Linked DNA regions of Homo sapiens. The protein of the gene in region 1 purifies or fractionates together with the protein of each later gene. This does not show direct contact. Each region holds a gene or a part of one and is shown on either strand. Other genes may lie near its edges.

Region 1 (7,299 bases):
GGTGTTTTTTATCAAGTTGAGGAAGTTCCCTCTATTCCTGTTTTTCCAAGAGTTCTTATGAGTGGGTGTGAAATTTTCTGCAACGCTTTTCTGCATGTATTCAAATGATCCTGTAGCTTTTTATTTCAGCCCATAGGGAATTACATTGTTTGGCTCTCCTTGGAAAACTCACTTGGTCACGATTCGTTATCCTTTTGGTGTATTGCCTGACTCAGCTTGGTAACGCTTTGTCCAAGGTTGGGGACGGTGCTGGTGAAGCAGATTGCTCTGTGGCCGACCTCCCGTTTTCTGTGTCTGTCTGGTTTGGGGTCGGTTTAAGCCGGGCCTGCAGTGACCTGGGAGTAGGATGGGGTAACTTATTCCCTAAAAATTGTGGTAGTATTCGCTGGGGAACCCATTTGGGCTTCGAGATTTCTTTGTGGGAAGGTTTTTAATGAGAAATTCACTTCTGCATCAGCTAGAGGGCTATTCAAGTTATCAAGGTAATATTGAATAAACTTTGGTAATTCTTTTAAGGAATTTGTCCATTTCATCCAATTATTAGATGTCAGATTATTGGCATAAAGTTGTTCAGCATATTTCCTTATTATCCTTTTAACGTCTGTATGGTCCATAATGATGAGCCATCTTTCATTCTTGACATAGGTAATTTATCTCATCCCTCTCATTTTCCTTGATCAGTCTATATTTATCAATTTTATTGAGTTTTTAAAAAAAATCATCCCTTGATTTCATTGATTTTTCTCTATTTTAAAAATATCTTTACACTTTGCGAGGCCAAGGTGAGCAGATCACTTGAGGTCAGGAGTTCGAGACCAGCCTGGTCAACCTGCCAAAATCCTGTCTCTACAAAAAAATACAAAAAAAATTAGCCAGGCATGGTGGCGCATGCCTGTAATCCCAACTACTTGGGAGGCTGAAGCAGAAGAATCACTTGAACCCAGGAGGTGGAGGTTGCAGTGAGCTGAGATCACACCACTACACTCCAGCCTGGGAGACAGAGCAAGACTCTGCCTCAAAACAAAAACAAAAACAAAATACGTATATATATCTTTACTATTCCAGTGGTTTCTGTTTTTTATTATTTCTTTTTTTTTTTTTTTGAGATGGAGTCCTGCTCCGTCGCCCAGGCTGGAATGCAGTGGCATGATCTTAGCTCACTGTAGCCTCCACCTCCCGGGTTCAAGTGATTCTCCTGCCTCAGCCTCCAGAGCAGCTGGGATTACAGGCGTGCGCCACCACGCTGGCTTTTTTTTTTTTTTTTTTTTTTTTTTTTTTTTGTATTTTTAGTAGCGACAAGGTTTTACCATGTTGGTCAGGCTGGTCTCGAACTTCTGACCCGCAGGTGATCCACCCGCCTTGGCCTCCCGAGTGCTGGGATTACAGGTGTGAGCCACTGCGCCCAGCCCCGACTTATTTTTGATTGACATAGCTTTATTTTCCTAGGTCAGATCTGTCAGTCTGATGACAGCCTGGACCTTGCCTGTCCATGGATGCAGAGTGTACTGATAGTTCTTGCTGTGGGAAGGGAGAGAGTGGCGCACTCCCTAGCATTTCAAATCCCCGCTAAGCCTGTGTCTTGGGCTGGGTGCTGGAACACATACAGGAGCCAGCAGGGTCCCAGGGACCTACTGGTTGGTGGGAGATTAGCTTGGAAACAAGAGCGAGCTGCATGAGGGCTGGTGGCTCATGGGCTCCCTGCCAGGGCAGCTCGCAGCGGGTGCTGTGCCTGCAGGGCTGCCCCTCAGCTCCCCAGCTCGGGCCACTCCCTGGGATTCTGGACTCAGTAGACCCGGCAGATGCCCACAGACATCTCGGCCTCATCATGTCCAGAATGGAACTCCAGATCCTCGCTCCACACCTGCTCCACCCTGGTCTTCTCATCTCTGTCCTCACTGCTCAGACAGAACTCAGCAACGTCGCCCTGACAGCAGATTGCGTCCGCTCTTCAAACCCTGTTCAGAGCCCAGTCCCTCCTCACCACTTGCCCACTGCCACCTCAATGCCAGGCAGCACCTGCTCCTCCCACCCCCCAGCCTGCTCTCCACCCAGTGAGTGACCGGATGCTGCTCTGCCCAGACCCCTCCAGCAGGTCTGTCTCAGAGTTGAAGCAGAGTCGTCTCCATACCCACAGGTGCTGGCACCTGGCTGTCCTACCTGTATCCCCCTTGCATGGTCCTCGCCTGCCTTCCCCAACCTGTGGCCTTTGCTTCAACTCTGCCAGCCTCCCCTCCCTGCCTCCTTCTCACTGAGGCCTGCCCTGGCCCCTGCAAACAGCAGCCCCTCATTTCTCTCCCCTGACTTCTTTTCCCTCATAGAGGAAATCATGTGTGTCACTGGATGCATTAGTCTGTTCTCACGCTGCTATAAGGACATACCCAAGACTGGGTAATTTTAGAGTCAAGTCCTTATAAAGGAAAGAGCTTTAATTGACTCACAGTTCCACAGGGCTGAGGAGGCCTCAGGAAACTTACAATCATGGTGGAAGGGGAAGCAAACATGTCCTTCTTCACAAGGTGGCAGGAAGGAGAAGTCTTGAGCAAAAGCGGGGAAAGCCCCTTATAAAAGACCATCAGATCTCATAAGACCTCACTCATTGTCAGGAGAACAGCAGCATGGGGGTAACCACCCCCATGATTCAATTACCTCCCACCGGGCCCCTTCCACGACATGTAGGAATTATGGGAATTACAATTCAAGATGAGATTTGAGTGGGGACACAGCCAAACCATATCACTGTATAACACACTAATTTGTTTATCCTGTGCACTCCTGTGCCCCCAATGAATGTAAACAGCCTATAGGAAGGACGTCACTTCTTTGTCCACCCCATAAATGTTTGTTGAATGTTGAATGATGATGGGACATCAGCAGGCAGAGGGATGAAGGGCATTTTAGGAGCAAGAATTTGTTGGAAGATTGTATGAAAGAACAGGGCCTGTTCTAGAAACTAGTGTTGCCAACAGAAACTTGGGAGCATTTCTCAAGTGATGACTTATGATCTGGGAAGCTGAGGGATTTGCTCTGCAACCTCTGGTTCAGGGCAGCTTGTTTGTATTTCTAAGTGGAGAGCAACTTTTGAAAGAAAAAAATGTTGAAATCCGATTAACATTTTTTTCCAAACAAAAAGAAACACAGGAGGATTCGATCCAGTTGGACCCACTCCCACTAATCCCGTTTATCGCTTTAAAAGATAGTGAAGTTTGGGAGGTTTCTCAATCCATTAAAATGAGTTCTTGACTTCACAGATTATAGTTTTTGAAAATTATTTCTCATCCTTGCTTGATTGAAATGAAGACAACAGAACATTGGCTGTGGTGGCTGGCACAAAATTAACTAACCCTAAAATACTAGTATAGCTTAAACTTTCGTTTATTGCTAAAAATTTATCACTGCTGTTTCCTGTGGGGGTGAGGTTGAGCAAAGTGTTTTGAGCTGCATTTATGCGTACTTGACACTTACGCATTTTGATCGAGGTGATTTAGTGGGCATTTTCACTGGGACAGGGATGCTTGTATGTGTAATCTTACTAAAAGCTAATAAAAACTTACTAAAAGCTAATAAAAGCTTACTAAAAGCTTCTTGCTTGATTGAAACGAAGACAACAGAACATCCCATGGTCTGGAACCTGATGACTTTGCTCAAGTTTTAATGTGGGTTCATGGTTTAAGGAGCTGGTTTTTCAGAAACTTTAGTTTGAGCCTTTTTACAATGTGCACAAAGAACCCGTTGCTGTAGTTGTCAGGGTGCCAGTGTCTCTGGGCGACACACATTACTGTGGTTTTTCTCTGCTTGGTGAGCAGAGATAAAGGGGGCAGCAGGACCGGGCCCACCAGCCATCCGGGCTGCCCACGCAAACCACAGGGCCGAATCCGGAGCCGCCCAAGGCCACACAGCTAAGCCGAGTGCGTGAATGCTTATGTGACCGTGTGAAGGAGGTTCCCACCGTGTGGCTGTGGGGGATGGAAAAAGGCTACTTGGAAAGATGTAGAAGACCTTCGAGTAAACAGTTACGTTTCAGAAACAGAGCCTGCTCAGAATGTGTACTTGGTGGGATTCTATTCTTAGGGACGCTTCTTTCTTCTGAGAGACCCGAGCTCTGTGGCGAGTGGCACAGGCAGGGCCCCTTCCTTTCCTAGTTGGGTTCTGACAGCTCCGAGGCAGTGGTTTACACAACCAACACGAAACATTTCTACGATCCACCCGATTCCTCCCCTCATTGATATTCAGGAAGCAGCTCTCCTTCCCCTGCCTTCAGCTCAAGTTTGCTGAGCTTTTGTTTCATTTGTGAATACTTCTTGCTGGAAGTCCCTCACCCAGAGACCAGTGCTCCCAACGGCAGAGCAGCGGGGGAGGTAAGTGCTCAGACATTAAGCCGTTGAGTAGAGGCATGTTTTGCAATCTCTCGTTTAGCTACCAATTGGAGCAGTTTAACGTGCTTGAGTCCCCGGCGTGATGTGTTCATGGACGAAGTTGCCGATGGATGTTGTCAGGTGTTGCACCTGGAGGGCCCAGATGGATCAATGAGGCATTTAAAGTGTAGAATCTCACCCTGAACCCAGACTATTCAGGTCCGTTTTTCTAGGAAAGTTATTTCTTTTTCACTTTTAGATTCAAGTGCTCATTTTCTTCTTCAAATTTAGAGCACTTCAGTATGAACAATATTTCTTTTGTTAAAAAATATTTCTTGGAAACAACTTATTGAAGTTTCCTCAGAGTGGCCAAAGCCGATGATAATTTTATTCCAGATAAAGAACTGGTGACACGTGGCTGTACATTCAGCACAGCTGTGGTGTCCCCAAGTGCCATGACCCAGGAGCCATTCAGAGAGGAGCTGGCCTATGACCGGATGCCCACGCTGGAGCGGGGCCGGCAAGACCCCGCCAGCTATGCCCCAGACGCGAAGCCGAGCGACCTGCAGCTGTCGAAGAGACTGCCCCCCTGCTTCAGCCACAAGACGTGGGTCTTCTCTGTGCTGATGGGGGTGAGTAGCTCCACACTAAGCCCTTGGAGGGCCACGAGCATCTGGTCCCTCTGGTGACGGACTGCAGCGCCCTGGAGCCCCAGGTGGGACAGAGAGAGCAACTCTCAGACTAACCCTGCTGCTGCAGAACTCTTGGATGCCGACGAGCTTGTTTTGCTTGTGTTTTCACAATTATTTTTATTAATTTATGGGTGTCTGTTGTGCCAGCCTTGAGCTGCTCCAGGTTGTGGCTTAGTCCCACCAGGGTAGGGACAGTCCCAGGGCCATGAATGGGCCCCAGGAGTCTCCATGACCCTCGGCTCTGGGGGCCCAGGGTCCTCTGAGGGGTCACCTGCAAAGGTGGGAGGAGGCGTCTCAGGCCTTCAGGTCGGCCCTCACAGAGAGAACCTCAGGGACCTCCTCCTCCTAGGGAGGGCCTCAGGGGCCGGCTGGGAGGGAGCTGGGGAACAAAGGAACAGGTCTGGGGTGGACGGGCAGCGCCAGATGTCCGAGGGATTTCCCTGGGGTCCTGGCCATTCCCTGCACAGTCGTGGGCACAGAGATGATTGGAGGAGCCACTTGGGCCTGAGTGTGTGCAGCTGCTCAGAGCCATGCTGCAGGACAGGCCTCTATGCAGGGACCCCCGGTTCCGTGTAGCTTGGGCTGAGAATGAGATCCAGGCTGTGATTTCTCCCCTCCCTGTGCCCTGGCCTCCGCCGGCAGCCCCTGCAGCACCCACAGTGGTCCTGCCCACCTCCCGTGGCCTGAGCATGCCCCACCAAGACAGGCGTCTGCCTCGGAGCTGGGGACAGAGGCGGCTCCCGGGTGGTGGTGGCCATCTCCGGGCTCTGCCCTCCTCCACCTGGTGCCCTGGACTTGGTCGCAGCCCCTCCCCCGCCCAGGCCAGATCCCCTCTGCCCCAGACCTCGCTTCCTCTGCCAGGACCCTGGGTCCCAGTGACCTTTGATACTGACTCCCCTCAGACTCACCCCGGGGGTGCTGTGCGTGAGAGAGAGCCCCCTCCCCACCGCACCCCTGCAGTGCTGTGCGTGAGAGAGAGCACCCTCCCTGCCTCCTGCTAGGGTCTTCCCTGCTCAGGAGCCCCTGGGCCTGGAGCCCCTGCCTGGAGGGATCTTCTTCCAGATCTGGAAATTAGGTTCTGCAGACGGAGGGGGATGGGCAGTTGTTTTCCAGTCTCGTGTCTGGACCTGGGTGTGGGATCTGGAAGACTGCACGCACAACATGTTGGGGCAGGAGTATTTTGTGGGGAGAGGTGCCATTCCTTGCTCTAAATATTGGCAGATCCCCTTTCTTCTCTCCTCCAGATAACAGCGTGGGGGGTCCATGCTCCGACATGGCTGGGGGAGGCTGGTCCATGTCCTGGGCTGCGGCGGGGCTGCGTCTGTCCTACAGGAGGAGTCCAGGATGGGCGGGTCCCAGGTGCGGGTGTGGTTGATGCTGGGGGACGTGGGTGAGTCACCAATACACAGACAGTGAAGCAGAAGTTGAAGGGTCAGGGTCCAGCCTGGGGACGGGGCGCGTTGTAACCTGGGATTCTGTCGCTGTCTTGCAGAGCTGCCTCCTGGTGACCTCGGGGTTTTCGCTGTACCTGGGGAACGTGTTCCCGGCTGAGATGGATTACTTGCGCTGTGCTGCAGGCTCTGTAAGCAGCTTCCTCCACGCCTCTGCCAGTGCCCAAGCTCGCCGGCACGTGCTCTGGTTTCTTTGTTCTGAGATGTGCAGGTTTCTGTCACCTGTACCTCATTCAAACCTCTTCATATGGGCCGGGCACAGTGGCTCATGGCTGTCATGCCAGCACTTTGAGGGGTGGAGGTGGGTGGATCACCTGAGGTCAGGTGTTTGAGACCAGTCTGACCAACATGGACAAACCCCATCTCTACTAAAAATACAAAAATTAGCTGGGCGCGGTGGTGGGTGCCTGTACTCCCAGCTACTCAGGAGGCTGAGGCAGGAGAATCGCTTGAACCTGGGAGGCGGAGGTTGCAGTGAGCCCAGATTGTGCCACTGCACTCCAGCCTGGGCAATGAGAGTGAAACTTCGTCTCAAAACAACAACAACAAGAAAAAAACAAAAAACTCTTCATATGACTTTAGTTTCACGTAGAGTTCATCACCTTTGAGAATTACTGATGAAGCAGGCCTGAACCTTGCTCTGCAGACGCCTGTGCAGGGAATTGCGTGTTGATTCTGAGCCTGCGGCTGCGTCCTGCCAGAGCTGGCAGCATCTGCCCTCAGGGGACTGGGACCTGTGCCCCACATCCTCCCAAAGCTTCATGTTGTGTTTTTAGAAACTTACACAGTGCCAAGGCCGGTGGA
Region 2 (7,858 bases), on another chromosome or scaffold:
CCAAGGCAACGGTGAAGAGTAAAGGTCACTTGTAGTTTTTTATTCTAATTGACCAGGAGTAACACAGAACTAAGGAAGTCACGAGCACTTCCACCTTTGGGGAGGAAGGTACTGAGTTCAGTTTGGGGCCTGTCAAGTCAAGATGGAAATCCCCTGCAAGCAACTAGAAATATGGAGCTCCAAAAAGAGTGTAGGATTGAAGATAGAGATTTGGGCATCACTCAGGGACAATCGTTGGAGCTATGTAAATGACAAAGGCTCAAGGGGCAAGACACAGAAAGAGAACATAAGGCTGAACCTTGAGTGTTAAAAGAAGTAGCTGTAGCTTTGGGTGTATAGGGGCAGTGGAAGAAGATAAGGCTGGAATGGCACCAGGTCCAGGTTATAATAGGCCTTCTCTTCCAGGGAAAGGAACTCGGACTTTACTTATAGATAGTTGGCAGTTACTGAAGGTTTTAAAACTTGGAAGTGGTACGGTCAGATGTGTGTTTCAGAGAGATGTACTTTACTGGTGCTTAATTACTTTCAAATAAAGAAATTCATAATCCAAAGAATTATTAGAGTGGAGGAAGACTGGAGGCAGGGAGAGTAGTTAGAAGGCTGCTGCAGTAGCCCTGGTGTATTAGGCCATTCTTGCATTGCTATAATGAAATACCTGAGATAGGCCATGGTGGCTCAAGCCTGTAATCCAGCATTTTGGGAGGCTGAGGTGGGAGGACTGCTTGAGCTCACAAGTTCAAGACCATCCTGATCTACATAGCGATTCTTCGTCTCTACTGAAAGTTAAAAAAAAAAAAAAATAGCTGGGTGTAATGGTGAACACCTGTAGTTCCAGCTACGTTTGAGGTTGAGGCAGGAAGACTACTTCAGCACAGGAGTTCAGGGTTGCAGTGAGCTGTGATCACACCACTGCACTCCAGCCTAGGGGACAGAGTGAAACCCTGTCTCAAAAAAAAAAAAAAGATTAAAAATTAAAAAAAAAAAAACCCAGAGAGTGGGTAATTTATAAAGAAAAAAGGTTTAATTGGCACACAGTTCTGCAGGATTTACAGGAAGCATGGTGCTGACATCTGCTCAGCTTCTCAGGAGACCTCAGGAAGCTTTTACTTGTGGTGGAAGGCAAAGCAGGAGCAGGCACATCACATGGCAAAAGCAGGAGCAAGAGAGAGTTGATGATGGGGGATGTTGCCATATACTTTTAAACACCCAGATCTCACGAGAACTCACTATCATGAAGATAGCACCAAGCCGCTGAGGGACCTGCCCCCATGATCAAAACACCTCCCACCAGGCCCATGTCCAGCATTGGCATTAAAATCCAGCATGAAATTTGAGCAGGATCAAAGATCCAAACTATTATTACCTGGTGAGAGGTAATGGTGTCCTAGACTACAGCAATGATAGTGGAATAGAGAGGAAGGGGACAATATTGAGGCTATTTAGAATACAGATGCATTGATTCAATAAGGGAGATGAGGTGAGGAAGATTGAAGAATCTAGGATGGCTGCCATGTTTCTGGTTGGGTGATGATAGTGTATCTACCATGGTAGAGAATAAATGGAGAGGAGCACTCTTGTGAGCAAGGTGACATGTTCGACTTTAAATATGTTGAGTTTGAAATGGATATCCGGGTGGGCTGGACATATTGACACATGGGTGGTAGTTGAAGCTAAATGGATGGATAACATTTTTGGAAAAATAATAAGTGCACAATAAATGTCTGTTAATGATCCATAAATCATTACAGTCCCTTTGCTTTCTCTTCTGTGGTGTTCTTCATGTTTATTTTGGAGTTCCACCAGAGCCTCCAAGCTAAGCTTGTCCAACCCACCGCCTGTGGGCTGCATGCAGCCCAGGACAGCTTTGAATGAGGCCCAACACAAATTTGTAAACTTTCTTAAAACATCATGAGGGTTTTTTTTGTGATTTTTTTTTTTTAAAGCTCATCAGCTACTGTTAGTGTTAGTGTATTTTATGTGTGGCCCAAGACAATTCTTCTTCTTCCAATGTGGCCCAGGGAAACCAAAAAATTGGACACCCCTGCCTAAGTCCTCTCTGTCTGTGAATGTCAAGACTGTGGCCCCCTTAAGGATCTTTTGGATGTCCTATTTTTTGAAACTTAAAGGTCTTATACCAGTCTTGCAGGCTGGCCCTCAGACCACCTCACCACAGCCCCTCATCCATATTGACTTAGGAAGAGAGGGCATTCGGAGTGTGAAGAAGAAAAACTGGAAGACTGTTTCTTTTTCTTTTTATTTTGTGTTTTGTTTTGTTTTGTTTTTGGAGACAGAGTCTAGCTCTGTCCCCCAGGCTGGAGTGCAGTGGCGTGATCTCGGCTCACTGCAACCTCTGCCTCCCAGGTTCAAGCGATTCACATGCCTCAGTCTCCCAAGTAGCTGGGATTACAGGCGCGTGCCACCAGGCCCGGCTAATTTTTGTATTTTTAGTAGAGATGGGTTTTTGCCATGTTGGCCAGGCTGGTCTCAAACTCCTGACCTCAGGTGATCCACCCACCTTGGCCTCCCAAAGTGCTGGGATTACAGGCATGAGCCACCTGGCCTGGCCTGTTTCTAGTACATTGTCTGGTTTCTATTTCTCTCCTCTCTATGAGTAGAGTTCTCAAAAGTGTAACCTATACTTGCTGACAGTTTCTCACTTTCTAGTGGTAACTTGTAATCTGGTTCCCACCTTGCTCACTCTTCTGAAATTGCTCTCAAATGTCACTAGAGACTTTGTCACTGCCAAACCCAATGCCTCTTCTCTCTGTACTTGTTGGCACTGTTAGAACCTCCTCCTTAACAGTCTCTCCTTCCTTAGCTCCATGACATCTCACTTTCTTTGTCTCCTTCCTGCCTGTCTGGTGGATTCTCTTTCACTCTTTGGGGGTCCTTCTTCTTCCCATCCCCTAAACATAGGTGTTCCTCACTCTCTGTGCCAGGCTCTCATTTCTCTGTGCAGTCTTTGTTGGGATCTACCCTGTTCTCATAGCTTCAACTCACACTGCCCTGGCAGCAATGACCTCCTTTCTCTCTCTGGTTCTGACCCCTCTCCACAGCTTCCAGCTCTGAACTCATCACTTCCTCTTCCCCCACCTCAGTCTCCTCACCAGGTGTGATCCCCCCCAGGCTCCCCTATGCCCGTGAATGACCTCGCAGTTCTGATCACCTGACTTGAGACTCTAGTATGATCTCTGAAGCTTCCCTCTTTTGCTCAACATGTCAAGTTGGCTTCAAACTTTTTTCATTTTCTTTTGATTTTTCTGTACTCCAATTCATTTTCTGTGTTCCACTTTTCACCATTGCCACGCTGATTTGGGCTGTCATCTCTTCATGCTTATATTATTGCAATTATTTTCTATCGTCTACTTGCCTACTATATCCACTTGGTTCAAACTATTTTGTCACCTCCCGATTAATTTTCCTAAAATGCCATAGCTTTCTCCTACTCCATCCTTCCCAAGAACCTTCAATTGCTCTCCGTAGCCTACAGAAACTCTGGCCTGACCACAAATCAGCACAACTCTGTGTTTCTTCCGGATGTTCCCCTTAACACAAACACTGCCTATGGTGCCTAACCTTTAGTCCCGTCCTTCCAGCTTCTCCAATGAGGCTATTTGAATGGACATTTACTTATCTTATGGCTTTTAGTGGTTAAACTAAGCTACATTCCTAGTTTCTTTCCTTTTTTTACCTGAATTTATAGCAATTCAATATGGTAACACTGGTTATTGATTAGCAGTTAAATGTTTATGATGATCAGAAATGAGGAAATAATTATATTCTTTTTAAATAAATGCTGGGGGTGGGGGTGAATTAAAACCTCTCAACACATAGATTCAGAAAATTAAAGAAATCTTTGGTGATGAAAGGGTTGAGAACCATCACCCTGCACTCTAATCTAGTAAATGGGACAGTTTGATGCTGTTTCCCAAGTGAACTTGTATTTTCACGTCTCCCCAGGACTCTGCTACGTTGTTCCCTCTGCCTTAAATGCAACAGAGTCCTGGGGACCATCTCTCAGCACCTGAATCTTCTGCTTCCTTTGGGACCCTAATCAGATGTTACCTCTTTCCTCCCACATCTGCTAGGAGCCCTCTGAGTAGAATGACCTCTCCCTTTTACAGCCTTCAGTACCTCCCGCACTTCGCTGAGGGTTCCGGCCTTATCTTTCCTTACAGAGAAAGCCGCTGCAGGTGGGCACCGTGTGCTGCGCGTCTCTCACCCAGCACCGCACCGGGGACTTAGGAGACGGTGAACAACACGGGAATTGTGCCCAAAGATACAGTCCTGTGGCTCAGGGAGCCCAGGCCTACTCCGCCCCAATCTCACTTCCAGGCGCCGCCTTCGGCGCTGCCTGCAGGGCCACTGGGCCGGTCCTGAATTCATTTCCACTTCGTTAACTCGGTCCCAGTCCCGCCCCCCGGCTCCAGCTCTCGTAACCCATCGCTGACAGGACCGCCTCCCTTTTCTTCCTTCTCCCTTCCCCTGTCACCCTGCCAGCTCAGCTCCTATCGTTTCGCATATCGTCTCTTCATCTCTCTTTCTCCCCGGGTCTGTCTGGGTCTCTGTCTTTGGATATTTCTCTCTGCGCCTGCAGCTGTCTGGGTCTCCGCTTCCTTGCCCCGCACGCCCCGCCCCCTGCCCAAGACCCTCCAATCTCGGCGGCTCGAGCCTGGCGCTCCACTCTCCCATTGGTCTGTTCGGAGCCCCCCGCCCCCGCCTGCCCGGCCCCCCTCCGGGCCCCTCCATTCACACAAAGTTTGGCTCCGGCGCTGCGGAGGGAGGGGGCGGCCCGGCCCGGCCCAGCTCTGCCCCCGGCCGGCCCGACCCCGGCCCCGGCCCCCGGACAAGCCCTTATCTGATCCCAGCTCCGGGTTTAAGAGTCCTGGCCCGGCCCGTCGCACAGCTCTGCTCCTAACTCCTGCCCGCCCCGTCCGTCCATCTGTCCCGCTGCCCCGCGGCCCATCCAAGGGGCCACTCCACCTCGGACCCAAGGTAAGACCCTGGCCCTGATGAAGGAGTTCTGCCGCCCCGGCCGGGTCCTGTCCCCCTAACTCTCCAGAGACATCGGGGTCCCAGATCCTCAGTCCCTACCCTGCCTGGCCTCAGCGGTACCACCGTCTTGTTCCCCTGCCTCCCGCCTTGGGCAGTCCCAAATGGAGCCTCCTGGGAAGGGCTCCCCACGAGGAAACTAGCCAGGCTGGTCACCTCAGCCCTTTCATCTAAGGAAGGGGCTTTCCCGATGCCCCCTCCCACTGGGCAGACCAGCAGTTGCATCCCTGCTCCTCTAGTTAATACAGTGACAACCACACATAACCAGGCACCCCATACACAGGCACAACAGACAGTGCGCCCTCCTCCCCATATGGACAGGTTACTCCCATCCCCAGCCCCTCCCCCACTCCCCATACAGTGACAATCACATAGTGACACCCATGATCGCTAGTTCCCACATGGGGAGAAAAACAGATACTGGCAGCTTAAACCGGGGAGCCACCAAAGCCTGGTGTGCTCCAGACCCCTGCCCACCCAATCTCTTCCTTCTATTCTGAGTGGCTCCCATTTTAAGACATCCCTCCTCATGGCCCCTCACCCTCACCCCAGCTGTTTCGCACTGGGATTTCCAGAAGGAAAGGAGCAGGGCCACTTCTGCTAGAGTGAGAAGGGCAGATTGGGTTCTATAAACTCACCCTCCAGATGGAGACGCCCCTTCCCATTCCATTCCTCCTCTCATCAGAACTAACCCAGGGCACCTGTGTTAGGGAACAGATGAAGGATGGAACTTCCTGATTTGGGGGAGGAGAGCTGAACCCAGGAATGGGTAGAAGGACAACACTGGGAAAAAGTGAGGGTGGGTTCTGGTGTCTTGAAGTTTAATTCCAGTGAGTGCCCCAGGCAGGGTGAGGCAGATGGGGAAGAAGCTGGTGCAGATTTGGACCCCAAAGAGGCCAGTGCTTAAAGCCTGCTTCTGTTGCTTACCAATACAAATTCTGACTAAAGATGTCTGGCCAGTCTGCTCTTGCTGTGGTGTTTGAATTTTTTTTCTCCCCACTGGGACTGCTTTAGGCTGCCTGGGTGGGAGGGAGATAATGACAGGAGATTTAGGGCCCCCATGTGAGAGATGGCCTTGTTTAAGGGTGCTGAGGAGGGCCTGGAGTGGTTGTCATGAAATTAGCCCCAGGAGGGGTGGGCAGCCACCAGTGAGTTCAATTTAGTTTCATCCTGAAACTCTCTCCCTAATCTCCAAGGATTTTTGAACATATTCCTGGCATGATGGTGGGTACCATCCTGTGCCAAGTGGTAGGGCTTGTAAATTTCTCTGGGGGTAGACTGGGTATAGGGGACCAAGTTTGGAAGGAACCAGGCATCCTGACTCATAGCTGGTTCTTCAGGGAGGAAGAAACGAGGGAGGAGGGGGATGGAAGGCATCATGCCAGGGAGAGGGTCCAGGGCTGGATTGTGGAGGCAATAGGCACGGCCCAGGCAGTGCCAACTCCTTTCCCCGCTGCCTTCCCCCAGTCCTTTGGTGGTGGTGGCAAGGGAGGAAGGGAGGGAGAGGGTGTTGGGGGGTGATCTGGGCTGGTCCAGCCTCCCAAAGCCCTTGCCAACCTGGGTCCTGAAAGGAGCTGCTGTTTTCTGAGCCATCCCCCCACCCCCCACTCAGAGCCTGAGCAGCCAAGTTGTCTCAGCGGATATCAAATGGCAATGACTCCACCGATGGAGGGTGGGTGGGGAGTGGGAGTGGCAGGGGTAGCAGGGTTATGGTTCCAGCCCCTCTGTGGCTCTAATGCAGAACCCCTCTGCTATCCCTTACCCTGAGGAAAAAATAAATCCATCTTCCCCAACATCTGACCCACATCCAGTCTATGGGTGCATATGTTTGTGTGAGGGGATTAATGATCTGCCCGCTGGTATCCCCTACCTCCTCCGTGTGCCCCATTGAACCACATTCTAGCTCCCTCCCACCTGCATCACTGTGCATAAGCTCATTTACAGCTCCAGCTTGGTTGGCTTGAGCTACAAGGAAGTGACTGGCAGAGGACCCGGGGACCTTCCTTCCCTTGACCTTCCTTGGGACCAGAGAGGCTGGGACACTTGGATCACGGTGGGCTCAGATGAAGTCCTCTGGAGTCATTCTGTGATTGGCAGGATAGGGGGTTTAAAGCTCTAGGGGGTGGGTCATGCAGAAAGATCTGTTTCCTCAAAGGATACTCCTGAGCCTCCTGGTAAAACTCTTGGTTTCTGCACACAAGATGGAAAGATAGGCCGAGCCTCCTGGCATTGGTGGGGAGGAAAAGAGACATTGGGCAATGGAGTCCCTAAGCTTTCCAGCCACAGGTTATTTAGGACGGAAGAAAAAAACCTCCACTCTCCCTCCCCTCCTCGGCCTAGATTCTTCTCTTGCCTGACTGGTCAGTGCTACTGTCCAGGCTGAGGCCAAGCTGTCCAGGATAGCAGTGGGGCCCTGGAAGGGGGCAGAGAAGGAATCAGCCAAGGCACATCGTTGAGATGAAACTACAGAAAGATTGGAGAGGAAAGGGAGATTTAAAATCTAAGTGTTTTAGCACCCAATGGTGGGTGGTTGGCTGGGCAGCTCCTGGGAATGGGAGTTTGCCATGTCACTTCGGTCTCTCCAGCAGGCTGAGTTCAATGCTTTTCTTCCCTCATTTGAGTTTAGCCTACATGTTTGCCACCATTCTTTAGGGAGAGAGTGCATCTGGTGGCCCCTCTTCCTCCCCTCCCCCATCAGAACCTTGAAAGGGCAAAGAGAAAGGGATTGTGGGAAATGCCCTCCCGTGGGTGTTTGCCAGCTTGGAGCCTGGATTTGAGGTGGTGGGGGAAGGGAGGGGCTGGCTCT

What was found. The genes of interacting proteins can lie anywhere in the genome.
Region 2: the proteins of MLC1 (region 1) and KCNJ10 purify together in Homo sapiens (affinity purification with western blotting, with the first as the bait; 2 studies listed by BioGRID). This does not show direct contact.

What each region holds. Positions count from the first base shown.
Region 1 is NC_000022.11:50,082,411-50,089,709, reverse strand, and holds the start of MLC1 (membrane protein MLC1), read left to right. Parts: upstream 1-4,283; 5' UTR 4,284-4,355; exon of another isoform or gene 4,356-4,748; 5' UTR 4,749-4,807; coding exon 4,808-4,984; intron 4,985-6,536; coding exon 6,537-6,626; intron 6,627-7,299. UniProt on the Homo sapiens protein: Transmembrane protein mainly expressed in brain astrocytes that may play a role in transport across the blood-brain and brain-cerebrospinal fluid barriers. Regulates the response of astrocytes to hypo-osmosis by promoting calcium influx.
Region 2 is NC_000001.11:160,067,159-160,075,016, reverse strand, and holds the start of KCNJ10 (ATP-sensitive inward rectifier potassium channel 10), read left to right. Parts: upstream 1-4,856; 5' UTR 4,857-4,995; intron 4,996-7,858. UniProt on the Homo sapiens protein: May be responsible for potassium buffering action of glial cells in the brain. Inward rectifier potassium channels are characterized by a greater tendency to allow potassium to flow into the cell rather than out of it.